Linked DNA regions of Homo sapiens: all the other regions are linked to region 4. Evidence: fine-mapped expression QTL. A gene starts in region 4. Each other region holds a variant in brackets. All regions are shown on one strand. Distances are between the middles of the regions.

Evidence for each region. PIP is the estimated chance that this variant, and not a neighbour inherited with it, causes the effect.
Region 1: its variant is fine-mapped to the expression of KLK10 in lung (TOPMed, PIP above 0.99).
Region 2: its variant is fine-mapped to the expression of KLK10 in atrial appendage (GTEx, PIP above 0.99).
Region 3: its variant is fine-mapped to the expression of KLK10 in esophagus muscle (GTEx, PIP above 0.99).
Region 5: its variant is fine-mapped to the expression of KLK10 in cerebellum (GTEx, PIP 0.98).

Annotation. Positions count from the first base shown.
Region 1 is chr19:50,973,766-50,978,864 of GRCh38, forward strand. KLK7 (kallikrein related peptidase 7) reads right to left here. Exons shown (of 6, transcript NM_005046.4): 6 at 2,703-3,926. The coding sequence ends at 3,771. LOC105372442 (a long non-coding RNA gene) reads left to right here. Exons shown (of 7, transcript XR_007067308.1): 7 at 895-961. Among named protein-coding and RNA genes, the nearest start is that of KLK6, 6.7 kb to the left of the region's middle. The variant T/C (reference allele first, on the strand shown) is at 3,082.
Region 2 is chr19:51,129,613-51,134,711 of GRCh38, forward strand. It overlaps SIGLEC9 (sialic acid binding Ig like lectin 9), which reads left to right. Exons shown (of 7, transcript NM_014441.3): 7 at 279-698. The coding sequence ends at 467. Among named protein-coding and RNA genes, the nearest start is that of SIGLEC9, 7.3 kb to the left of the region's middle. The variant C/T (reference allele first, on the strand shown) is at 2,876.
Region 3 is chr19:50,557,752-50,562,850 of GRCh38, forward strand. All of the region lies in intron 1 of LRRC4B (leucine rich repeat containing 4B), which reads right to left. Among named protein-coding and RNA genes, the nearest start is that of LRRC4B, 8.1 kb to the right of the region's middle. The variant C/T (reference allele first, on the strand shown) is at 3,112.
Region 4 is chr19:51,017,199-51,022,297 of GRCh38, forward strand. KLK10 (kallikrein related peptidase 10) reads right to left here and starts at 2,511. Exons shown (of 6, transcript NM_145888.3): 1 at 2,429-2,511; 2 at 1,845-1,941; 3 at 1-92. The coding sequence starts at 1,932. It overlaps KLK11 (kallikrein related peptidase 11), which reads right to left. Exons shown (of 6, transcript NM_001136032.3): 6 at 5,038-5,099.
Region 5 is chr19:50,715,164-50,720,262 of GRCh38, forward strand. SHANK1 (SH3 and multiple ankyrin repeat domains 1) reads right to left here and starts at 4,639. Exons shown (of 24, transcript NM_016148.5): 1 at 4,243-4,639; 2 at 1,502-1,799; 3 at 1,112-1,315; 4 at 496-567. The coding sequence starts at 1,756. The variant C/T (reference allele first, on the strand shown) is at 2,517.

The DNA of each region.
Region 1 (5,099 bases), 43 kb before region 4:
CTGCAGTGAGCTATGATCATGCCACCAAACTCTAGCCTGGATGATAGAGCAAGACCCTATGTGAAAAAAAGAAAAAAAAAATTATAAGGAAACTTCATGAGACTGTAAGCAGAAAAAAGTGCCAGAAGTCATAAACAATAAAAACCAATGCCTGGGCCAGGCGCGGTGGCTCATGCCTGTAATCTCAGCACTTTGGGAGGTCAAGGCGGGCAGATTGCCTGAGGTCAGGAGTTTGAGGACAGCCTGGCCAACGTGGTGAAACTTGGTCTCTACTGAAAATACAAAAATTAGCCGGGCATGGTGGCAGGCACCTGTAATACCAGCTACTCAGGAGGCTGAGGCAGGAGAATCACTTGAACCTGGGAGGCAGAGGTTGCAGTGAGCTGAGATCGCGCCATTGCACTCCAGCCTGGGTGACAAGAGCAAGACTTTGTCTCAAAAAAAAAGAAAAACTAAACTAAACTAAACTAAACTAAAACCAATGACCATTGAAGGAAGGCTTACCTCGTGCCACACAATGTTTGAGCACTTTCTGTATATTAACTTATTGAATCTCTGTAATAACCCTAGAAAGTAGGTGCTTTTTCTCCCATTTCAAGGATGAAGGAACAGGGACAGGGGAAGTAATGAGCTTAAAGGAAAATAGCTTGTAGGGACTAGAACTGGGATTTGAACCCAAGAAGCCAAGATCCAGAGCTAGTCCCTTAACTACCACACTATACTGCTTACCCAAAGAAAAATGAATTACTTAAAAAAAATCAACATTAGTACCATCTCAGTCATTGCAAACCAATCTACCTGTAGCTTGCGTATAGGAGAGCAGAGGGCCAGGGCCAGGGATCTCCAGGCTGACTTAGTGCAAATGCAATGTTTTGTTACTTTTTAAAATTCCAGATTGAATGTTGGAGTGCCTTGCAGAAGAGAGAGAAAATGTTGCTAAAACTTCAGGGGAATGACTGGTCGAAAATGTTTGACATTCTTAAACTTGACAGGCCCAGAAACAGAAGGGGCTGGGGACCTGGGCTCCTGGGTCTGAGGGAGGAGGGGTTGGGGCGGGGGGTCTGGACTCTTGGGTCTGAGGAAGGAGGGGCTGGGGGGGAGCCTGGACTCCTGGGTCTGAGGGAGGAGGGGTTGGGGCGGGGGGTCTGGACTCCTGGGTCTGAGGAAGGAGGGGCTGGGGGGGATCTGGACTCCTGGGCCTGAGGGAGGAGGGGCTGGGGGGAGTCTGGATTCCTGGGTCTGAGGGAGGAGGGGCTGGCGGCGGGGAGCGGTCTGAACTCCTGGGTCTGAGGGAGGAGGGGCTGGGGGGAGTCTGGACTCCTGGGTCTGAGGAAGGAGGGGCTGGGGGCGGTCTGGACTCCTGGGTCTGAGGGAGGAGGGGCTGGCGGGGGGGGGGGTCTGAACTCCTGGGTCTGAGGGAGGAGGGGCTGGGGGTAGTCTAGACTCCTGGGTCTGAGGGAGGAGGGGCTGGGGGGGAGTCTGGACTCCTGGGTCTGAGGGAGGAGGGGCTGGGGGGGAGTCTGGATTCCTGGGTCTGAGGGAGGAGGGGCTGGCAGGGGGGTCTGAACTCCTGGGTCTGAGGGAGGAGGGGCTGGAGGGAGTCTGGATTCCTGGGTCTGAGGGAGGAGGGGCTGGTGGGGGGGGTTCTGAACTCCTGGGTCTGAGGGAGGAGGGGCTGGGGGGAGTCTGGATTCCTGGGTCTGAGGGAGGAGGGGCTCGTGGGGGCAGGCCTGCACTCCTGGGTCTGAGGGAGGAGGGGCTGGGGCTGGTCTGGACTCCTGGGTCTGAGGGAGGAGGGGCTGGGGGGAGTCTGGATTCCTGGGTCTGAGGGAGGAGGGGCTGGGGTTCTGGACTCCTGGGTCTGAGGGAGGAGGGGCTGGGGGGAGTCTGGATTCCTGGGTCTGAGGGAGGAGGGGCTGGGGGGTCTGGACTCCTGGGTCTGAGGGAGGAGGGGCTGGGGGCCTGGACTCCTGCGTTTTCTGTGTTAGCCTCCTATATGGGAGAATCAGAATTAGCGGCTGCAGAATTTCTGCAATATGACAGGGCTGTGGTGCCTGGGTTAGGAGAGACTCAGAGGGAGATGAGATAAGGAGGGGAAGGATCTGGAGGATCTTGGTGGGGAGGGAATTCTGGGAGAAAAACAGGAAGAACAGGTAGGAGGGCGTGTCCTGGGCTGGAGTGGCTCCTCGGTCAGCAGCGTCTGAGGTGTGACCACACAGAGGATCTTTGATGTTAGATGGCTGGGGCTGTGGCCAGGCTCTGAGTCACAGAGGACTCCTCCCTCATCCTACCCGCTTCCCGAGGTTCCTTTCCCTCCCTTCTTGGGGAGCAGGTGCCACCATCTTCCTCCGGCACTGTTTGCTTACTTCTGGCAGACCCCCGTGGGACCCCTGTGTCCTGTCTACTGTCATCCCAATCCCTCTGAAAACCGCCAGCCTCCCTCCTCACTTGTCACTCGTGAGATGCTCAGAAACACTTTCACACCCCTTCCCACGCTGATGAAGTTGGCCTGTTCTCTCCTCCCTCCTCCCTTCCTTCTTCCTCTCTCCATCCTTTCCTCTCTCTCCCATTTTACAGACAGGAAAAACTGAGATCTGGGAAATGGAAATATGCCCTGGAACAGGGCCGGCAGGACCAGGGCTCAAAACCAGGCACATATTTCTTTCTAGTCTCCCTTCCTGAAAGGTCACCTCTCTCCAATCTTAGATCTTCAGACTTTTTTCCCCACCTTTATTTTTCATGTTATAAAAGTGCACATTCAAGGAAAAGTACACAGAAGGAAGGAGACACCTCATGACGACCCCAGTATGCAGTCTGGGACATGTGTTTTCAGATCTGATTCTGTGAATATTTCATTTTTTATGGGTAGGGTCACATACATATATATTTTTGTCCTTCCTTTTGTCATTTAACATCCTATAGCCTAAATGTTCTTGAATAATACTGACAATTCTGTCTAAGTATCATTTTTAATAGGTTTGTAATATCATTGTGGGCTGGCCGTGGTGGCTCATGCCTGTAATCCCAGCACTTTGGGAGGCCAAGGTGGGTGGATCATCTGAGGTCAGGCGTTCAAGACCA[T/C]GCTGGCCAACATGGTGAAACCCTGTCTCTAGTAAAAATACACAAAAAATTAGCCTGGTGTGGTGGTGCACACCTGTAGTCCCAGGTACTTGGGAGGCTGAAGCACGAGAATCACTTGAACCCAGGAGGCGGAGGTTGCAGTGAGCCAAGATTGCATCACTGCATTGCAGCCCAAGCAACAGAGACTCTGTCTCAAAGAAAAAAAACATCGTTGTGCCAAGCCAGACTATTATTTAAGCCATCTGGTACTTTTGGAACATGTTTGATGGTTTCACTTCATTTCTGTGATAAATAATATCATGGTAAATTCAAGTCTTGTTCTACATTTTGGATTTTTTTTGTTTCAGTAGGTTCTTCCTAAGATTAGAGTTACTGGGTCAAAGGTGGTGAATAAGGGTCTCGGTGTACGTTGACCAAGTGTCTTCCGTAAAGACTGTACGAACGTCCAGTTCCAGTGTTTGAGAGTGCTGGTCTCACTGACTCTTCTCCAGCACTGAGGGTTTTGTGTTTCTTTATTTGTTTTGGTTTTAGGTCTTTACCAATTTGATTGGTTTATCAACAGGGCATGAGGTTGGTTTAAATATATCTTTGAGGAAAGGTAAAGTCAAATTTGACTTCATAGGTCATCGGCGTCCTCACTCCTGTGCATTTTCTGTTGGAAGCACACAGTTAATTAACTCAGTGTGGCGTTAGCGATGCTTTTTCATGGTGTCATTTATCCACTTGGTGAACTTGCACACTTGAGTGTAGACTCCTGGGTCATTGGGTTGGCCGCAAGGGAAAGTTCCCCAGGACACCAGACCTTGCAGGGTACCTCTGCACACCAACGGTCCCCCTGAGTCACCCTAGAGGGAATAGAGCCGGAGATTAACTTTGGCTTCAGATCAAAGCCCAACTCATTCTCATACATTCCTCAGTTATCGGTCTTTGTCTTGCAGATTATGGACTTCCACCATAGCCAATGAGAAGAGACTCATTGTCTCTGGGGACTAATGGGAGAGCTAGTGCTAGGGACACACTAGGTCCTTTGAAGACACTGGTTTGACCCTTGGCCAATGAGACCAATTGCAGAGAAGGGGTGGGGCTTCCAGGATCAGAGCACTCTTTATTTTCCAATGTTAAGGACCCTGCTCCAAGCTAGTGGGAGAAGGAACATCATCTCCAAGGGGTGGATGCGTGCCCTGTGGCGCAGGAAAGGGGGACACGATGGTCTCGGAGACCAGGGTGAAGACCAGTTACATAATTTACAGGACTTGGTGCAAAACGAAAATGCAGGGCCCTTTGTTCAAAAATTATTGAGAATTTCAAGACAACAGCAGGAATGCATTAGACTAAGTTTGAGACCCTTCTGAGTGTGGGGCTCTGTGTCCGTGCAGAGCTTGCACATTCATGAAACTGGCCCTCACCAGGGGAGAAGGGGAACACCCTATTCTCTAGGACAGTCATCTCTCTCCCATCTCCTCTATCCCTAACACTCACCATCCCACATCCCCTGACAGCTGAAGGTGCAGATGTGAGCAAGGAGGATGGGTGTGGAGAGACAGAGAGAGTTGGAGGTGGAGAAGAAAGAGGGAAAGGAGAGAGAGACAAAGAGAGATGAGGAAGAGGGAAAGGGTATGGGGAGAGAGAGAGACAGAGAGATGGGGGTGGAAAAGAAGGAGGGAGAAGAGAGACAGACAAAGAGATGAGGGAGATGGGGAGGGTGTGGGAAGAGAAGAGAGAGAGAGATGGGGGTGGAGAAGAAAGAGGGAGAAGAGAGAGACAAAGAGAAAGGGGGGGAAGGTGTGGGGAGAGAGATGGGGTGGGGGTGGGGAGAGGAGAGAGAGACTGGAAGAGAGGAGGAGAATAAAGAGAGAGAAAGAAAGACAGAGATGGGGGAGCGGCAGGGAGAGGAGAGAGATAGAAGAAAGAGAAAGAGAGAGACAGTAAAAAGGAGGGGGCAAGGAGAGATGAGGGAGAGAGATGAAGAGAGACAGAGAAGTGGGGGAGAGAGAGAAAGAGGAGAGGGCCAGAGAGGA
Region 2 (5,099 bases), 110 kb after region 4:
AATCTTGGCTTACTGCAACCTCTGCCTCCTAGGTTCAAGCGATTCTCCTGCCTCAGCCTCCTGAGTAGCTGGGATTAAAGGTGCACACCACCACACCTGGCTAATTTTGTATTTTTAGTAGAGACAGGGTTTCACCATGTTGGCCAGGCTGGTCTCAAACTCCTGACCTCAGGTGATCCGCCTACCTCAGCCTCCTGAAGAGCTGGGATTACAGATGTGAGCCACCGCGCCCCATCCTCACTGTCTGCTCTGACTCACTTCTCTCTCCCATGTCTCAGGGGCCCCTGACTGAACCTTGGGCAGAAGACAGTCCCCCAGACCAGCCTCCCCCAGCTTCTGCCCGCTCCTCAGTGGGGGAAGGAGAGCTCCAGTATGCATCCCTCAGCTTCCAGATGGTGAAGCCTTGGGACTCGCGGGGACAGGAGGCCACTGACACCGAGTACTCGGAGATCAAGATCCACAGATGAGAAACTGCAGAGACTCACCCTGATTGAGGGATCACAGCCCCTCCAGGCAAGGGAGAAGTCAGAGGCTGATTCTTGTAGAATTAACAGCCCTCAACGTGATGAGCTATGATAACACTATGAATTATGTGCAGAGTGAAAAGCACACAGGCTTTAGAGTCAAAGTATCTCAAACCTGAATCCACACTGTGCCCTCCCTTTTATTTTTTTAACTAAAAGACAGACAAATTCCTACCTCTCTGTACCTTGGTTTCCTGCTCTGTAAAACAGGAATGAGAAGCCCTACTTGCAAGGTTGTGGTCACCATTCCAGGAGTCACATCCCGTTAGAGCTCCTGGCACAGGTGTATGCCGAGCACTGATGGATCGCTGTGCTTTGAACACAAAGGTCCTGCTGGGAACCTCTCCTGATTCTGGTGGCAACTAGTACTTATATGTCTGTGTCACTTGCCTGCAAAATAGCGATTCTGCAACTTTCCAGGAAATAACCTCAGCCTGCAAATCAGGTCTAGGTAGCATCTGGATCCTGCCCACCTCTTCAGCCTCATCTGCCCACCCTGTGACTGCTAGGCCGCCTTACTCTCTGCAGTCTACGTATTGTGCACAGTCCAGTGGGAATCTTTAGGACACACTGAGCTCTCTCCGCACTGCTCACAGCCCATCCATGGCTCCTGGATCCTGAACCTCCCATCACATCCTCTTCGTGACATCACTCTCCCACTTCAGTCCACTCCTCCATCTTCACCACTTAACCCACTGGTCCCTCTGGTCTTTTCCAAATCATTTGCAACATGCCCTGTTGGTTCATACCTCAGTCCTTGCACACTGGGGACCCTCCTCCTAGAACGCCCTCCTCCTGGGCCTTCTTCTGTCTCTGTCTTTGAAAATGGAGTTCAAGGATTGGACTTCTGGGTTGAGCTGAGGGAGAGAGTGAAGCAGCAGCTCATGATCTCCCTCCTCTAAAGCCAAACCCAGGGAATGAGAAACGTTTCCAAAGGGGCACAGGATCATCTGGCAAATTAAACAACATGATCCAAAAAAATTTACCTACATGCAGCACCCGAACGAGGAAAGGGACATCTCACAACAATCACTTTATGCAGTAGCCCTGATAGGAAGAAATCAAAGGACTGGAGGAAGCACTAAAACTTCCCTAAATCTAGACTCTTGCCCATTTACGGCAGCATCAAAAAACCGTAAAGTACCAAGGAACAATTTTTTAAAAATCATGGCCGGGCACAGTGTCTCACGCCTGTAATTCCAGCACTTTGGGAGGCCGAGGTGGGCAGATCACGAGGTCAGGAGATCGAGACCATCCTGGCTAACATGGTGAAACCCTGTCTCTACTAAAAATACAAAAATTAGCCGGGCGTGGTGGCGGGTGCCTGTAGTCCCAGCTACTCGGGAGGCTGAGGCAGGAGAATGGCGTGAACCCGGGTGGTGGAGCTTGCAGTGAGCTGAGATCGTGCCACTGCACTCCAGCCTGGGAGACAGAGCGAGACTCCGTCTCAAAAAAAATAAATAAATAAATAAATAAATAAGTAAAAAATCATATCCGAGCTGGGCGTGGTGGCTCACGCCTGTCATCCCAACACTTTGGGAGGCTGAGGAGGGCAAATCACTTCAGGTCAGGGGTTCAAGACCAGCCTGGCCAACATGGTGAAACCCCATGTCTACTAAAAATACAAAAATTAGCCAGGCGAGGTGGCGTATGCCTGTAGTCCTTGCTACTTGGGAGGCTGAGGCAGGAGAATTGCTTGAACCCGGGAGGCGGAGGTTGCAGTGAGCTGAGATTGTGCCATTGCACTCTAGCCTGGGCGACAGAGCAAGAGTCTGTGTCAAAAAAAAAAAAAAAAAATCCTATGCTATGGTTTGGATATGGTTTGTTTGGCCCTGCCAAGCCTCCTGTTGATATTTGATGCCCAGTGTTGGCGGTGGGGCCAAATGGGAGGTGTTCAGGTCCCGGGATTGGATCCCTCATGAATGGCTTGGTGCTGTCTTCAAGGTAATGAGAGAGTTCTCACTCTGTTACTTCCTGTGAGAGTTTCTCCAAGAGCTGGGTGTTAAAAAGACATTGGCACCTCCCCTCCCCAGCCCGTGCTTCCTCTCTTGCCGTATTGTCTGCACATGCAGACTTCCTTTTGCCTTCCACCATGAGTGGAAGCTTCCTGAGACCCTCACCAGAAGCAAAGGCTGGTGCCAAGCATTTTCTATGTGGTGCAGAACTGTGAGCCAAATAAACTGTGGGGGGTGCACGGCAACATATTCAAGCTTATGTACAAGGCATTTGAGGTCGAGGCATGGAAAAATACTGAGGCACCGTGTGCGTGTTGTTTGTGCATGAGATTGAAACTCCTTGACCCTGAAAACAGGGCAAGGAACGGAATGTGTGATAAGGAGCGCGGAAAGCAG[C/T]CTCCTGAGACTGTAGTCTGAGTGTTTTTACCAGGCCATATGTGTCTCATGACCCGACCGCAAAAGGCCATCTGGTGGACATTTTGGTTTAACAAACCCTTTCGAGAAACACTTGGCGGACGGATTCTGGGGCGGCACTCTTTCAGAGATGCTGCTGCCGCCGCATCCCGCTCAGCTGGAATTGTCTGAGTGCTTCATTCTTGGCGTTCACTGCAGCTACAAGCTGTATAAACCTCTTTTCTTTATAAATTACCCAGCCTCAGATATTACTCTATAGCAACACAAATGAACTAAGATAACACGGAATGCTTCTGTACTGATGAATATAGAACATTTTTGAGAGACTTAAGGAAGGCCCAAATGAAGGAAGAAATATATCACGTTCATGGATTAGAAGGCAAAAATGGTTAAAATGTCAGTTGTCTGCATATTGATTTAGGTAATCCCTGTCAAAATTCCTATATATATATAAAATATATGTATATGTGTATATGTATGTACATAAGTATAGATGAGTGTATATGTATGTATATTGTAAATATAAGTTTATATATATACATATATAGTTATAAATTGATAAGTTGGTTCTGAAATTTATATAAACACATAAAAACCTAGAATAACCAAATCATTGTGATAAGAAACACATTTAGAGAAGGCAGACTTTAACACTAGAGTAATACAGAGAGTGTGGTGTGGACTAGAGTACAGTCTACAAATGGACCCACACATATACAGTCAACTGAATAGCATCAAGTCTATTCAATTGGGACAGGAAAGACTTTTAATAAATGTTGGTAGGTGGTCGGGCGCGGTGGCTCACACCTGTAATCCCAGCACTTTGGGAGGCTGAGGTGGGTGGATCACTTGAGGTCAGGAGTTCAAGACCAGCCTGGATAACATGGTGAAACACCATCTCTACCAAAAATACAAAAAAAAAAAAAAAAAATTAGCTGGGTGTGGTGGCAGGCAACTGTAATCCCAGGTACTAGGGAGGCTGAAGCAGAATTGCTTGAACCCAGGAGGCAGAGGTTGCAGTGAGCCAAGATTGTGCCACTGTACTCCAGCCTGGCGACAGAGTGAGACCCCATCTTGAAAATAAATAAATAAATAAAAAATAAATGTTAGCGGAACAAGTGAAATTAGGGTTGGTAAAAACGAGTGTTGAGCTGTTTCTCACATCACACGCAAAAAATTAGCCTGAAGCGAATCATAAACCTAAAAGTAAAAGCGGAGACTATAATGTTTGTACAACTGTGCTGTTTGATATGGTAACCACTAGCCACATGTGGCTACTGAGCACTTGAAATGTCCTACATTTAGTGAGAAAATAATATAAAAATCTAAGTAATTAATATTTAAAATTGATTACATGTTTCCATGTAACGGCATAATACTCATCAATATATAATAACAATATATAATACATGCAATAGCTTGAATAAATTTTGAAAACATCTTGAGTCAAAGAAGCCAGATGCAAAAGAATACATGCTCTGTAGTTTCACTTATATGAAGTTCAAGAACAGGCCAAACTAATCTACAAAGACAGAAATTCATAACAGTGACTGCCTCAGGTTGGGAGTGGGATTTGGGGATTAACGTGAATGGCACACAGGGGAACTTTCTGGGGTCCTGGGAATTTTATTTCTTTCTTTTCTTTTTTTTTTTTTTTTTTTTTTTTTTTGAGAAGGAGTCTAGCTCTGTTGCCGGGCTGGAGTGCAGTGGCTCACTGCAACCTCCGCCTCCAGGGTTCAAGCGATTCTCCTGCCTCAGCCTCCTGAGTAGCTGGGATTACAGGCACGGGCCACCATGCCCAGCTAATTTTTGTATTTTTAATAGAGATGACCACCATGTTGGCCAAGACCACCATGTTGGCCAGGATGGTCTTGATCTCTTGACCCTGTGATCCAACCACCTCTGCATCCCAAAGTGCTGGGATTACAGGCGTGAGCCACTGCGCCCAGCCAGTCCTAGGAATAGTCTATGTCTTAACTGGGATAGTAATTATGTGGTTATGAATCAAAACACATTGAATCACGCAAATAAAATCTATGTATTTTACTGTATGTAAATTTACCTTTCATGAAAGAGAAATTAAAAACTCTTAAATGATGAAAGCTTTTGGTTCCCTCTTTTTTATTAGACTAGCTAGTGATCTATCAATCTTATTTGTTCTTTCAAAGAACCAACTTTGGGGTATACTGATCTTTTGTAGGAATTT
Region 3 (5,099 bases), 460 kb before region 4:
GCGGAGGACTACACTTGACCCTTGAAGGACAGGGGTTTGAATCGTGTGGTCCACTTATATGTGGACTTTCTCCTGCCTCTGCCACTCCTGAGACAGCAAGACAACCGCCCCCTCCTCCTGCTCACAGCCTACTCAACGTGAAGACAATCAGGGGAGCCCGTTACGATGATACACTCCACTTAGTGGCTAGTAAATGTATTTTCTCTTCCTTAGCATTTTCTCAATAACATTTTCTTTTCTCTAGCTTACTTTATTGTCAGAATTCAGGATAGAATACATTTAACATGAATGTGTTAACTGACTGTTTATGTTATTGGTAGGGTGTCCAATCAACAGAACACTATTAGGAGTTAAGTTTTAGGGGAGTCAAAAGTTACAGGCAGATTTTCAACTGCACAGGGGGCTGGCACCCCTAGCCCCCAAGTTGGTCAGGGGTCAACTGTATACATACACACACACACACACACACACACACATACACACACACATACATACATACACACACACACATCACACAAATTTCTGCTGGAGTGCAGTGGCGTGATCTCAGCTCACTGCAGCCTCCACCTCCCAGGCCCAGGTGATCCTCCCACCTCAGCCTCCTGAGTAGCCGACTACAGGCGTGGACCACTACACCCGGCTAATTTTTTTGTATTTTTGTAGAGATAAGCTTTTGCCATGTTGCCCAGGCTGGTCTCAAACTCTCGGCCTCAAACAATCCTCCTGCCTCAGCCTCCCAAAGTGCTGGATTATAAGCGTGAGCCACGGCACCCGGCTGTATTTCAATATATCAATGCATCACTGTCAAACAGACTCTCTGCAATGATGCAAATGTTCTCTCCGTGCTGTCCAGCACTGGTGGCCACCAGCCACACGAGGCTACGGAGCACGTGACGTATGTCGAGAAGGAGCAGGGACTGAATTCTTCATTCGACTTGATGTGACTGTTGCTGCTCATGCATGGCAGTGGCTGTGGCAGCTACTGTGTTGGACAGCATGGATCTAACCACTGATCCTGCTTGGAACTGCTTCTGCCTGAGTCCCTGAAGTGCCGCTCCGTCTGCTCCTTGGCCCTGCCCAGCTACCTCACAGGGCTCTTATGGGACTCATGGAGAAGCCAGGGAGATCACAGCTGGAGAAATGGAATGTTATGGAGAGTCTGAGGCCTGAGCACCTGACCAGCGCTGCCTTGGTTGCCTGTGCCAGGCCTGCGCTGCGGGAGCTGCCTGCAAGAGCTCATTCAGTCCCCGCAAGGGGCCCATGGCGAGAGCTGCTGCTGCCCATTTTACAGAAGGGCACACTGAGGCACTGCCATACCCATGGATAGCCAGATTTGGGTAGGCTTTGAGATAAAAACTGAACTTCCAAAAAAAAAGAAAAAGAAAAAGAAAAAGAAAAGAGGGCCGGGGGTGGTGGCTCACGCCTGTAATCCCAGCACTTTGGGAGGCCAAGGTGGGCGGATTACCTGAGGTCAGGAGTTTGAGACCAGCCTGACCAACATGCTGAAATTCCACCTCTACTAAAAATACAAAATTAGCCGTGCCTGGTGGCGGGCGTCCATAATCCCAGCTACTGGGGAGGCTGAGAAAGGGGAATTACTTGAACCGAGGAGGCAGAGGTTGCAGTGAGCTGAGATGGCGCCACTGCACTCCAACCTGGGCAACAGAGCGAGACTCTGTCTGAAAAAAAGGAAAGAAAAAAAACTGAACTTCCAGGTCCCTGGACTGTGATTCTGTGCTGGGATGGGGCGGCTTAACACCCCTGAACTGAATTCACCCCAGAAGAGAACTGGGCCCTGGCCTGGCATTGGTGGTTTTTACAACAGTATTTGTTGCCAAGGCTCAGGCAGTGGGGCGTGAGAGCGAGTTTGCAGGTTGGGAGGGGCGTGGCCCCCGCCAGCTCCACTCATAGGGGTCCTGCCTAGGAAGGACGCTGATCCGATCTGTTTTCTCTCACAGGGTTGTGCATAGTTATTTTGTTTACAACAAAAGGGTGCTGCTAAAAGTCATAAAAAGCTGAAAACTATGTGAACTGGAGCAATGCTTCTCAGACATGAATGTGTGTCCAGCTGTCTGGGAATCTTGTTAAGAGGCAGATTCTGGCCGGGCGCAGTGGCTCACGCCTGTAATCCCAGCACTCTGGGAGGCTGAGGCGGGCAGATCACTTGAGGTCAGGAGTTTTGACACCAGCCTGACCAACATGGTGAAACCCTGTCTCTAATAAAAATACAAAAATTAGCTGGGCGTGGAGGCACCTGCCTGTAGTTCCAGCTACTCGGGAGGCTGAGGCAGGAGAATCACTTGAACCTGGGAGGCGGAGGTTGCAGTGAGCCGAGATCGCACCACTGTACTCCAGCCTCGGTGACAGAGTGAGATTCTGTCTCAAAATAACAATAACAATAACAAAAAACTGCAGATTCTGCATCGCCATATCTAGGGTGAGGCTGTCATTCTGTTTCCCAGGGGATGCAGGTCTCACAGCAAGGGGCTGAAGGGTCTCTAAGTGCCCATCTCACTCCTATATTCCATTTCGGGATGAAGAATGAAGCCCCCTCCTCTCCTCTCCGGAGCTCTGTATAGGGGTGTAGCTCAAGGTGGGCCTTGGAATCAACTAGACCTGGGTTTGAACCTCAGCTGCCACAGTTACTAGCCATGTTGGCTTGCAAAGGGAGCTTCACCCCTCAGGACCTCGGTCTGCTCACCTGTAGGTGGGGAAGGTCTGATATCTGTGATGAGTTTAGGGAAATGCCTGGGGCATAAAAGGAAAATGCTCAGTGAACTTATTCCAGGATCCAGAAGATCCTCCTTCTCCTCGTCTACCTCATCACACCGTCCTGTGAAGAGGAAGGATGGAGAGGTGGAAAGAGTGTTGGTGTTGAGGAAAACTGGGTTGAAACTCTGGCTGGCCACTTTCTCCCTGTGTCCCCCGCCCCAGGCTCCGCCTTGCAGTCTGTGAAGATAATGACACCTATTAATAGCTTGTTGGGGTTCCTGGAGACCATGTACAGTGCTTGACACTTAAGTGACAGCTACATTAAAAGTTATCATTTATTCTCGGCCGGGTGCAGTGGCTCACGCCTGTAATCCCAGCACTTTGGGAGGCCGAGACGGG[C/T]GGATCGCTTGAGGTCAGGAGTTCAAGACCAGGCCGGCCAACACAGTGAAACCCCCGTCTCTACTAAAAATACAAAAAATTAGCCAGGCGCTGTGGTGCGTGCCTGTAATCCCAGCTACTCAAGAGGTTGAGACAGGAGAATCGCTTGAACCTGGGAGGTGGAGGTTGCAGTGAGCGAAGATAGCACCACTGCACTCCAGCCTGGGTGACAGAGTGAGACTCCGTCTTAAAAAAACAAAAAACGGTATTTATTCTTACGGGTCAGAAGAACAAACAGTTTTCCCATTCCATGACTCAGCCCCCTCCCCACCCAACCCCGCCACTTCTCTGCCATTGTAAATCCAGCATTTCTGGCTGGATCAAAACCACTCATCTGTCAAGGAGTGGGGGGCCCATGGGATCACATTTGGGGTCTTTGCCCTTCCCGCAACAAGATCCTACAACCCCCACGTCGGTGAGGGCTGATTCTCTACTGTGAGAATCAGCATGGGGAGTCCTTTCCCTTCTGGTGCTTGAGAGGCATAAACAAGATTGAGAACCTGACAGCCCCTAAGTTATAGCAGCTTCAATGCCTTCAAAAGTCTAGACTTGTTGGCCGTGGTGGCTCATGCCTGTAATCCCAGCACTTTGGGAGGCCAAGGCAAGAGGATCGCATGAGCTCAGGAATTCCAGACCAGCCTGGGCAACATAGTGAGAACCCCCTCTCTACAAAAAATACAAAAATTAGCTGGGTGTGGTGGTGCACGCCTGTAATCCCTGCTACTTGGGAGGCTGAGGCGGGAGGATCGCTTGAGCCCAGGAGGTCAAGGCTGCAGTGAGCTGTGGTTGTGCCCCTGCACTTCAGCATGGGTAACGGAGCAAGACCCTGTTCTCCCCCAACTCCAAAAGTCTAACCTTCTATGAGTGTATTGTTATTAACAACCTAATTATTGTGATTATTAACAATTTTATGGCCGAGTGCAGTGGCTCACACCTGTAATCCCAGCACTTTGGGAGGCTGAGGCAGGTGGGTCACTTGAGGTCAGGAATTTGAGACCAGCCTAGCCAACACAGTGAAACGGTGTCTCTACCATAAAATACAAATAAATAAATAAATAAATAAATAAGCCAGGTGTAGTAGTGATGCGTGCCTGTAGTCTCAGCTACTCAGGAGCCTGAGGCAGGAGAATTGCTTGAACCCAGGAGGCAGAGGTTGCAGTGAGCCGAGATCGCGCCACTGCACTCTAGCCTGGGTGACAGAGTGAGACCCTGTCTCAAAAAAAAAAAAAAAAAATTGAATTTCCACTTTTAGGGCCCAATGGACCAGTGCATTCTCCTCTCTTGGCCTCAGTTTCCCCCTCTGTAAACTGGGAGTCTCATGGAGGGAGGCGACCTGCAGGGCGGCCCACACCAGGGTTTGGAGTCCCGGCTCTGCCATTTCTAGGTGTACTATTTTGGGCAAGGGACCCACCTCTCTGGGCCTCAGTTTCCCCATCTGTCAAACCAGGGATGATGACTGTGCCTCCTTGCAGGGTTGCCTGAGGAATACACGGAAAAAATCCACATAAGAGACTGAGCACTGAGCCTGGCTCGTGGCATGCTCTCAATCAGTTAGCTACGATCATGGTCATCTCCAGCTCTGGAGAGAGGGTTTGAGGCAAGGGGAGGGCCAATCTCCTCTGCGTTTACCCCCTGGGGCTGGCCTCTGCAGTGGAGCTGTGGCTGCACAGCCTTCTGACCTTTGTTGTAGTGTTTGAACAAGAACTCTGGGGCCTAAGCTCAACTCCCTGGGCTGGGGCAGCATCTGGGGGGCACAGTGAGCCTGGGAGTGGCTGGGGCTGCTGCCCCCTCCTGCCCTGCCTCACTCTCTTCCTCCTCTCCATCCAGGGTTTTTTTTTTTGTTTTTTTTTTTTTGGCGATGGAGTTTTGCTCTTGTCGTCTAGGCTGGAGTACAATGGGCATGATCTCGGCTCACTGCAACCTCTGCCTCCCGGGTTCAAGCGATTCTC
Region 4 (5,099 bases):
CTGCCAGGGCTGCGAGCCGCGCGCGCACGGGGAGCCATAGGCTTCGGGGTCCAAGCGCGTGTCGTTTTGGGGGAGCAGCGCCGCCTCTGCGGCTGGAGAAAGAAAGGGGACGGAATCAAAGCACGGAGGGCAGGGTCTGGGTTTGGGGTTGGAGCTGGGCTGTGGCACTGGACTGCGTTCGGGGACGGGGGACGCAGCCAGAACGCGAGGGTGGTAGGGAAATATTGGGGGTTTCGCGTGCACCGAAGGGAATGGGAGGAGAAGAAGCGCGTGAAAGTGGAAGGAAGCTGGGATAGGGTAGCGTGGAGTAATGAGACAGAATAGGGTGGGTCTGGAGGGCAGGGACTGAACGCAGCGCGCCTGGAGAGCTGGCTAGAACGTCGCTGGTCGATAGAGGGGCGGGGATTGAACGCGGCGGGGAGGTAAGGGTGCGGGGATAGAACTCGGGGATCGGGGAGAGGAAGGGGTGTGAATAACAAAACGGGATTGAAAACCAGGAGAGGGGTGGGGCGCAGTGGTTTACGCCTGTAATCCCAGCACTTTGGGAAGCCGAGGCGGTTGGACCGCTTGAGCTCGGGAATTCAAGACCAGCCCGGGCAACACAGCAAGACCCAGTCTCTACAAAAACAAACAAACAACAACAACAACAACAAAAAAGTAGTCGCGGAGGCATGCGCCTGTAGTCACAGCTACCTGGGAGGCTGAGGTGGGAGGATCGCTTGAGCCCAGGAGGTGGAGGTTGCAATGAGCCGAGATTGGGCCACTGCACTCCAGTCTGGGCGACAGAGTGAGACCCTGTCTCAAAAAAAAAAAAAAAAAAAAAAAAAGCCGGATGTGGTGGTGCATGCCTGTGGTACCAGCTACTCTGGAGGCTGAGTATCGCTTGAGCCCAGGAGGTCGAGGCTGCAGTGAGCTCTGATTGGGCCACTGTACTCCAGCCACGGAGACAGAGCACTGCCCTGTCTCAAAAAAAAAAAAAAAAAAAAAAGAAGGAAAGAAAAAGAGAGAGAAAGAAAAAAACAAGAAAGAAAGAAGAAAAAATAAGAGAGAAAGTAAAACAAGAAAGAAGAAACAAACGAAAGGAAGGAAGGAAAGGAAGGAAGGAAAAGAAGAACGAAAGAAAGAAAAGAAAGAAAGAAAAAGAAAAAAGAGAGAGAAAGGGAAAGAGGAAGAAAAAAAGTGAGGGGAGAGGGCAAAAAGCGGTAAGGCAAGACTCAGGATAAAACACGGTGGTGTGGCCGGGAGCGGTGGCTCACGCTTGTAATCCCAGCACTTTGGGAGGCCGAGGCAGGCGGATCACGAGGCCAGGAGATCGAGACCACGGTGAAATCCCATCTCTACTAAAAATACAAAAAACTAGCCGGGCTTGGTGGCGGGCGCCTGTAGTCCCAGCTACTCGGGAGGCTGAGGCAGGAGAATGGTGTGAACCCGGGAGGCGGAGCTTGCAGTGAGCCGAGATCGCGTCACTGCACTCCAGCCTGGGCGACAGAGCGAGACTCCGTCTCAAACAAACAAACAAACAAAACAAAACACGGTAGTGTAAAATGGAGCGGGGCCGGGATGGGGCGGCGTAAGAGGAGGAGAAAGAACGCGGCGAAGAGTCCACGGAAGAGCGAGGATCCGGGTGGCAGAAATCGGACAGGGCCTGAGTGGGGCGGGTCACCCAGGGGCCGAGCCAGAAGAAGGGCCCAGCTGACTTGGGGGCGGGCCGTGCTCCGGAGCGCTGGGTGGGTGCTGGGGTCTCGGGGGAGGAGAGGTGCGCGGGGCTTGGTGACGGGAACACATTCTCCTCCCGCCCGTGCCTCCCACCGGCGCCTCTCCCCGCCCCCTGCCCCCGACCTTACCCCAGAGTTGCGCCATCAGCAGCGGCAGCAGCTTCGCCAGAGCCCGGGCGCCAGAGGCGGCGGAGAGGTGGAGGTGCGGAGCTCTCATGGCCAGGATCTGCTGGGGTGTGTGCAGGGGCGGGTTAAAACAGATGCTCCGTTAGAGACCCCCACCTCGCCGCGCTCATCCGCCCAGCCTGGGCCACCCCAGCCCGCAAGCACCCTTTTGACCTGCAGCCGATAACCCCAGGGGCTGGCAGACGGGAGATTCGGGCTGGAACAGCGGTAATGGGCACAATTACCCTAATGACGCCCCTCGCGGCATCTTCCCGTCCTCCCTGTGCCCGAGTGGAGCGCTCTCCGCGCCCCAGCTACCCTGGCTGCAGCCACGCCGCGCCCGAGGTTTCCCCCTCCTTCACGCGCGGGGTGGGGATCCGAGGCTCGGAGCCAGTGGGAGCCTCTTTCTCAACCTCACAGCGGGGGGACTTCCGCGTCCCGCAGGTGGAGAAACCGAGGCTCTAAGCCGGCTCCTGCCTGTGGCCCGGGGGTCCCCACCCATCCTCTCGCAATCCACCCCAACCCGGGTGGGGTGCAGGTAGCTTCACCTGGGAGTCGCCGATAGGAAGGAGGGAGGGGACCCAGACGTGCCTCTGCCCTGCCTGTGGTCTGCCGCTGGTATCCTCTGCCCAGGGACCCCTGGCGGGACCTTCCCTTTTAACCCCAAGGAGTCCGGAAGCTTCTCCACCCTCCCCTACCCCCACCCCCGGGCTCCCTCCCTTTCCCTCTGTCTAATTGTACCGTGGGTGAGGCTGGCACTCCTGGGTCCCAGATTCCTGCTCTGGGAGGGGCCCTGGAATACAGGCTTCTCCCAGTGCCCGAAACGCCCCCTTTTCATCCCTTTTGGAACTGGCTTCCGTGGGGATTCTCCGGGTCCCGGTGCCAAGAAGGCTTCCCAGGCGCGGGGAGAGGGTTCACGTCCCCAGCAAGGCTAGGGGTGGCAGGATGAGAGGCCACTGAGCAAGAGGAAATCAATGGGAAGTGCATACCTAGAGTGACAATGTGAGAAGCCAGACTGTGGAAGAGGAAGGAGGAAGGCCTAGAGATAAAGCAGGTTGAGTAGGAGGGACAGAGGCTGGCTTGAAAAGGGAGATTGTAACAAACCAAGGCTAAAAGAGCCAGAGAGAGAGAGAGAGAGAGAGAGAGAGAGAGAGAGAGGGAGGGAGGGAGGCGCCGAGGCTAAGAGAAACAGAAACAAGGAAAAAGGGAAACCCACGCCCACTCTGTGGCCGTGAGTGAGCTCTGTGTGTGTCCCAGTGACTAGCCCATGTGCGTGTTGGGGGGGGCTGTGGCTCTGCCTCATACCCATGTGTGGCCATCTCACACCCTCCCTGCCATCTGTGTGCCACCAGGTGACACACAGGCCCCTGAATCATAGGAGGTCAAAGCTGTGAGGGGCATCGGCATCACCTCAGCCAACTCCCTCATCTCAGGTGAGGAGTGAGAGGCTCAGAGAGGGCAGAGACTCACAGGAGGTCACACAGCAAGTCCACTTGACAACCAGAAGGCCCTGGTTCCACTCTGGGCTCCTATTGCTCATGCCAGCCACTTCTGCGAGGTGAACAGACCATCCCAAAAGATCCTGAGCTGGCCGGGCGCGGTGGCTCACGCCTGTAATCCCAGCACTTTGGGAGGCCAAGGGGGGGCGGATCACGAGGTCAGGAGTTCGAGACCAGCCTGGCCAACATAGTGAAACCCCATCTCTACTAAAAAGACACAAAAATTAGCTGGGGATGTTGGCACAGGCCTGTAGTCCCAGCTACTAGGGAGGCTGAGGCAGGAGAATTGCTTGAACCTGGGAGGCAGAAGTTGCAGTGAGCCGAGATCACGCCACTGCACTCCAGCCTGGGTGACAGAGCAAGACTCTGTCGCAAAGAAAAAAAAAAAAAAAGATCCTGAGTTCTGGATTCTCTCCGTGGGACATCCTCTTCAGAGGCCATCTAACTCAGTGCTGCTCAGCTGAACTTTCTGCAGTGATGTTTTATATGCACTAGCTAATCCAGCCACCACCAGTCACATGTGGCTATCCAGCCTTGGAGATATAACAAGTGAGACAGAGGAGTTACATTTCTGGCTTTATGTAATTTTAATTGGAAGAGCCAGCTGCGGTTAGTGGCTACCATATTGGCCAGCAGAGGTCTCCACTATCTAATTACCTATCATGGAAGTTGGAGAAAAACAATAAGCTCCTTTGGTTAGGTCTTAGTATGTGCAGGCTAACTGACTTCTTTACTTACTGTGTTATACTTTTGCATGCAGCATTTTACAGGAAAGGAAACAAACAGAGCCTTACTCCAGGAACATCACTTGGTAATTAAGAGATCGCCTTGCTTCAGATCCTTGCTCTCCTAGCCACGTGACTGTGAGCAAGTGACTTTGCTTCTCTGTGTCTGTTTCTTCAACTATAAAATAGGTATGAAAACAGTACCGACCTCACAGGGTTTTGTGAGGATTAAGTTGATACATTTGAAAGTGCTTGGAGGCCAGGCACAGCGACTCATGCCTGTAATCTCACCACTTTTGGAGGCTGAGGAGGACAGACTGCTTGAGCCCAGGAGTTTGAGACTAGCCGGGGCAACATACTGAGACCTCTGTCTCTACGAAAAATACAAAAATTAGCTGGGCTTCGTGGCATGTGCCTGTAGTCCCAGCTACTCTGGAGGCTGAGGGAGGACAATCACTTGACCCCAGGAAATTGAGATTGCCGTGAGCTGTGATTGTTACTGCACTCCAGCCTGGGCAACAGAGCAAGACTGTCTCCTAAATAGATTAATTAATTTAATTTCTTTTAATTAATAAATGAAAGCCGGGCGGGCGCGGTGGCTCACGTCTGTAATCCCAGGAGTTTGGGAGGCCAAGGAGGGCAGATCATCTGAGGTCAGGAGTTCGAGACCAGCCTGGCCAACATGGTGAAGCCCCATCTCTACTAAAAAATACAAAAATTAGCCGGATGTGGTGGTAGGCACCTGTAATCCCAGCTATTCAGGAGGCTGAGGCAGGAGAATTGCTTGAACCCAGGAGGTGGAGGTTGCAGTGAGCAGAGATAGCACCACTGTACTCCAGCCTGGGTGACAGAGCGAGACTCTGTCAAAAAATAAAATAAAATAAAAGCCATTGGATCAGGGTCTAGCACATAGTAAGCACTCAGTAGATTCACTCATTTAGCAAATATTTATTGAAACCTTGATATATGGCCAGGAGCTGTCTTTGGGGCTGGGG
Region 5 (5,099 bases), 300 kb before region 4:
CTGGCGGGCAAGGTACCAGGAGGACAGATATGGCTGGAAAGGGGGGTGTAATGGTTGGATTTTGCAGAGATTCAGGCTATGAGGTTGGGAGAAATGTAGCCTGTCTTTGAAATAGACTCTAGGCAGAAGGACCTTCAGTGTCAGGGTCCTAGGCCAAGGTGGGGAAGTAAAGAGGCCTTGGATGGATATGGGGGGAGGCAGGGGAAGAGAAGGGAGACTCAAAGGAGGCCAGGTGGGAATGATGTGGGCCCAGGCAGAGGGATGAAGGGCAAAAGAGGAAAGTAAGAAGGGGTTGTGATGGGGATAATGGGGGGTATTTGTGGTTGTCTCAAATGTGGTACAGCATCCCAAGTTAAGCGGGGGCAGTGGCCAGAGGGATCGCTGGCTTGGGGAATGTGGAGGTCTATTGGGAAGAGGTGGGGAGAGAAAGTGGTTGGGTAGGGGGCTCCAGTGGTAGGGGGCTATAGGGGATAGATGCCAGCAGGGTTTTCTCACCTTCGTGTGCAACTTGGCCAGCTGCTTCTCATCCAGGTTGGTCTGTTTGTAAACTCGGGTCTTGTATCGGAACTGAGGTCAAGGGTAGGGTAGTGAGAGAGACACAGAGACTTGGAATCAGGGGCCTGGGGAGAAGGCTTGGGGTAGGGGAAGGTCTGATCCCCTTCTAATTCCCCGGGGTAGCTCAGGGTGGGAGTGAAAACAGCCCTGGAACCTTGGTCTAGGCGGTAGATGGGTGGCAGTGGCTTTTCCGACAGTGCTGGGTATTATGGTATATGTGCACTGCAACCCCTGCCTTGAAGGAGGAGGAGTCTGGACCCCACAGGGAATGTTCTAGAGTGCCTACTGTAATTGGGAATCCTCCCCCAATTTGATGGGTGAGGAGAAGCTTGGGGCAGGAAAGTGACTTGGCCAAGGCCACTTAGCTGGTCAGAAGCAGAACAGATGGTAATTTGAACTCAGGACTCTCTGACTTCCCTGTGATGCTTAGAAGGTCTGGACTCGCACACTGGGTGCCCCCTCGTTAAGGTTTCGAGTGTGTTAAAAAGTGGGTGGGGGGCAGATGTGTTTTAGGGCATGCCTTCTCTTATCAGTGAAGGAGTTGGGGAAGCTTCACCTCCAGGTAGGGGACCCCCTTCTCAAAGGACTGGGGGTACTCCCGCAGCAGCCTCTCCTCCTCCAGGAAGTTGGCATCGCGGCCGGAGGTGGCCGGTTGGAACAGGCCATAGTTGAGCACATCCTGCAGGCTCTCGCTCAGGGCACAGAGCACCTGCTGCTTGGCCGTCCAGATGGTGGCATCGGGGTTGAAGCGAAGGCATTTCTGGTTGGGGAAGAGATAGGGGCTAGGGTGGGCCAGGGGCCAGAGGAGAGCCTGAGGTGGGTTGGGAAGTGAGCCAGGAGCTGAGTGTGGGGGTGATTCCTGGGAGGATACCCAGCACCAGTGGACTCCCCATGTCGGTTGGGGCACTGTCCCTCTCCTGCCGCTGGCCAGTGGGCAGGTACTCACTGTCTGGTGCAGGTCCGGGATGCCAATCCTGAAGACCATCATGCTGAAGTGGGCGTCGTCTGGGACGGACATTGAGCGGCCCTGGAGGCCTCTAACAGAGGCCAGGCTACCAGGTGCCCCACTGCCCTGGCCCCGGGTCCCCCGGGGGCCTCGACCTGGCCCGTCTGGGGAGCTGTCGGACTCTGAGCCCCCCTCGGGACACTCGCTGGCACTGTGGCGTTCCTCGTCCTCGCTTGTCGCGGGGCTGTGGGTCATTGTGGGGCCACGGGGCGACGGGGGACGGCAGCATCACAGGCGGCTGCAGGGGCCAAGGGCGGCCATCAGACTAGGAGCCCGGGACCCCTCAGAGGCCGCAGGCGCTATTCGGTGGTCAAGCGGTCAAGGGCAGCCTACCCCCACTGCCCAAGATAGGCAGGAAGGAGGCTGGACACACCCTCGGCCTGCACGGCCTCCCCTGCCGCCTCCTCCCACGCTGGCACGCACACACCCCTGTCCCTGACATGCTTCTGGCATGTGTCTCCTTCCCTGCCCTTGGCCCCGCTTGCAGCCCGCCCCCTGCGCCCCACTTTGCTGGTGACCCAGCGTGGCCGTGTCCCAGAAACCGCAGAATCACCGCGGGAGCTACTGGCCCACTTTGCCAGGCCACAGAAAATGCAGCTAAAATTAGCTAAGGACAGACAGGTGGACAAACTGACAGGCATCCTGCCCTCCTGGCCCCAGCCTGGCCCCTCATCCCAGGGCCGGGGGGTGGGGTTGGGGAGAAGCTGAGGCTGACACTGAGATGTAGTAAGGGGGAGAGGGAGGTGTGGTGAGCCTGGAGCGGGTGGAGCTGGTGACTTCACTCAAGTGTGGCTGACAACGCGTGGCATGCCGAATAGTGCTGGGGAATCTGCCGTCCCAGGGGAGCAAGGGGCACTGAGATGGGGGTGTCATGGGCAGAGCATTTGGCCTAGGGTGTCCCCAAGGGAACCACAAGAGGTGGCTTTTGGAGACTGGGGCATCTTGAGAGGGTGTG[C/T]GGGTAGGTGGGGAGGTCGGCCTGGGGAGTGCTGTCCAGGTGACAGTGGTGTGGTGGCCCGGGTAGATGTGGGTGGCTGCAGATGACCTGTAGCTCTTTTCTAGGACTGCAGGGTGGGTGGGCTGGCTTGCTGGGTACTAGGGGCTCCACTCTGAGGACTGGGGGTGTTAGGAGGGAGGCTAAGAAGTGAGAGGAGGGTCTGGGGAACTGAGTGGGGGATCATCTCTAGATCCTTGCTGTTCTCCCTTGAGGTGGCCTTATGAGGGTGGAGCCCCTTCCAAATGGGGTCCGCCTCCCTTCTGTTCTCCCCCAACTCCCACCCCAGCACCGGAAACCAGAATGTCTGGTCTGGTCCCTCCCCCCAACACCAGGCCCGGTTCCTGCACCGTTGCCATGGAGATGGGAAGCAGTGGAGGGTACTGCTGACTTTGGGGGAGTGGGGATGGGCTGGGGGGTTGGGAAAGGGAAGACTAAATGTGTGTGGTGGGAGGAGAGTTCCAGGAGGTGTGGGCGAGCGAGCCTCTAACCCAGGGCCGGCGGACCCCTCCCCCACGCGCGGCAGCGCTGCGAAGCCCCCTCCCCCTCCAGGTACCCAGCCACGCCGCCCCACCTCGTCCCTGCGGAGACCCCGGCTGCCTCCTCCCTGCCCCGCCGCACAGCCCACCTCGCGATCTGGGGCCCGCAGACACTCCCCCTCGGCTGACCCTGGCTGACCCCCAGCCTCAACCCCGCTCGGAGGGGGTGGCCGGTGGGATGAAAGAAAAGCTGGCTAGGGCCCCCCGCGCGTACGGCTGCCCCAGCCCCCCCGGGCCGGCTCCGGCCCCTCCCCCTCAGGGCTCGCGGGAGGGAGCGGGCACGCTCCGCCGGGGCGGCATGAATCAAACGCTCCGCGGCTAAGAATAGCTGGCACGCAGCTGGTACCGAGACGGGCTGAGGAATCGGCGAGGGGGGTGGTGGAGGACGCGAGAGAGGGGGTGCCCTGGGAGGCTGTGGGGGGACAGGGGGCGGCTGGCGTGGCCGAGAGCGGGGCCGGGGAGAATGAATGGAGGCGGAGGGAGGCGGGGAGGGGCGGGGAGAGAGAGCCGGAGCCGAGGCTGGGAAACTGGTGGGGGAGAACCCGGCCGGGGAGAGGGGCGGGGGGCACCGGGGAGCAGGAGTCGGGGGCGGGAGCCGAGGGGGCGCGCCGGCCGGCGGTGTAGGGACTGGAGACCTGGTGGGGACGCAGGGAGCTTGGACAGGGGTGGAAAGGGACTGGAGGAGCCTGGAAGGAGAAGCGGGAGCTGGAGGGGTCGAAAGGGGCGGAGGAGGCCCGGGCCTAGACCCTCGCTGGAGGGGAGTGGGGACCAGGGTGACCTGGCGGAGGGGCCCAGGTACGCCAGGGAGGGCGAGGCGGGGGAGTGGCCGGGCTGGGCGGGGAGGCGGGTACCAGGACCGAGCCCTTGGCCCCGGAGAGCCGGGAGGCGGGTTCGGGATAGGGGCTCTGCTGGCCGGGGGTGGGGGGCGCGCCCTCCCATCAAGGATGCGATCTGGGACGGGGCACCGGGGACCCGGGCGTAACCCAATTTGGTGTCGCCCAGGGCAACGCTCCCCACCTCACCCGTACCCCCAGCCGCACACCCAGGCCAGGAGCCCGGCGCCGGGCCAAGGACATCCGGGGCGCCCTCGCCCCCTCCCGCGGCCCCGGCCCCGCAGCTGCCCCAAACCCCCAGGTTCTCGACCCCCTTACCTGCCTGGCGGGGCTGCTGAGTCCCGGTCGGCGGCGCCCGCGGCCCCTCCCCCCTCCCCCCACCCCCCACCCCCCCGGAGACGGGGACCCTCAGGCCATGCCCCACCGCCCCGGAGGGCGAGCGGGCCCGGGGAGGGGGCGGGCGGGGACCGGGGGGGAGGGCGGGAGGGCCGAGGACCTCACCCCCCCCGCGGGCCGGGCCTGGCCATCCGCAGAGCGCCCCCCCTTCCGCCGCGGCCGCCGCGCCCCTCCTCGCCCGCCCCCGGCTCGGTCCGGCCGGCTCCGGGCGCCGCGTCTCCGCCTGCTCTTCCTCCTCCTCTTCCTCGGGCCGCCGCCGCCGCCGCCCGCTCCGCGCCTCCTCTGCCACCCTTCTCGCTCTCTCGCTCTCGCTGTCTCTCCCTCACCCTGTCTCTCTCCCTCCCTCTCTCCCTCCCTCCCCTCCCTCCGCCCTCTCCCCTCCCTCCGGGAGCCGGCGGAGGAGACATCGCCCCTCCCCGCGCCCCCAAACCTCGCCCATCCCCCACCACCGCCGGCTCCGCCCCCTACCCTTGCCCTCCCCCACCACTCCTCCCCACCTCCGAGTCCCCAAATCCTGACTCCGCCCCTGCTTGCTCCCATACCCCGAGGAAGGGGTCCTGCCCCCATAAGGTGCCCCCCCACACACACCTCAGGACCACCCCCTCCCAGAGAGCTCCCCGCCGCCCTACACAGAGTGGGGCACAATAAATATTTGTTGCCAGACTCTACACCCCCAAATTTAAGTGTGAAGGCTATAGATTCCCACCCTGTCCCCCCAAACACACACACACCCTTTCCATTTAAGCACTGGGTCAGGGCACACGTGGACATACCTGGGC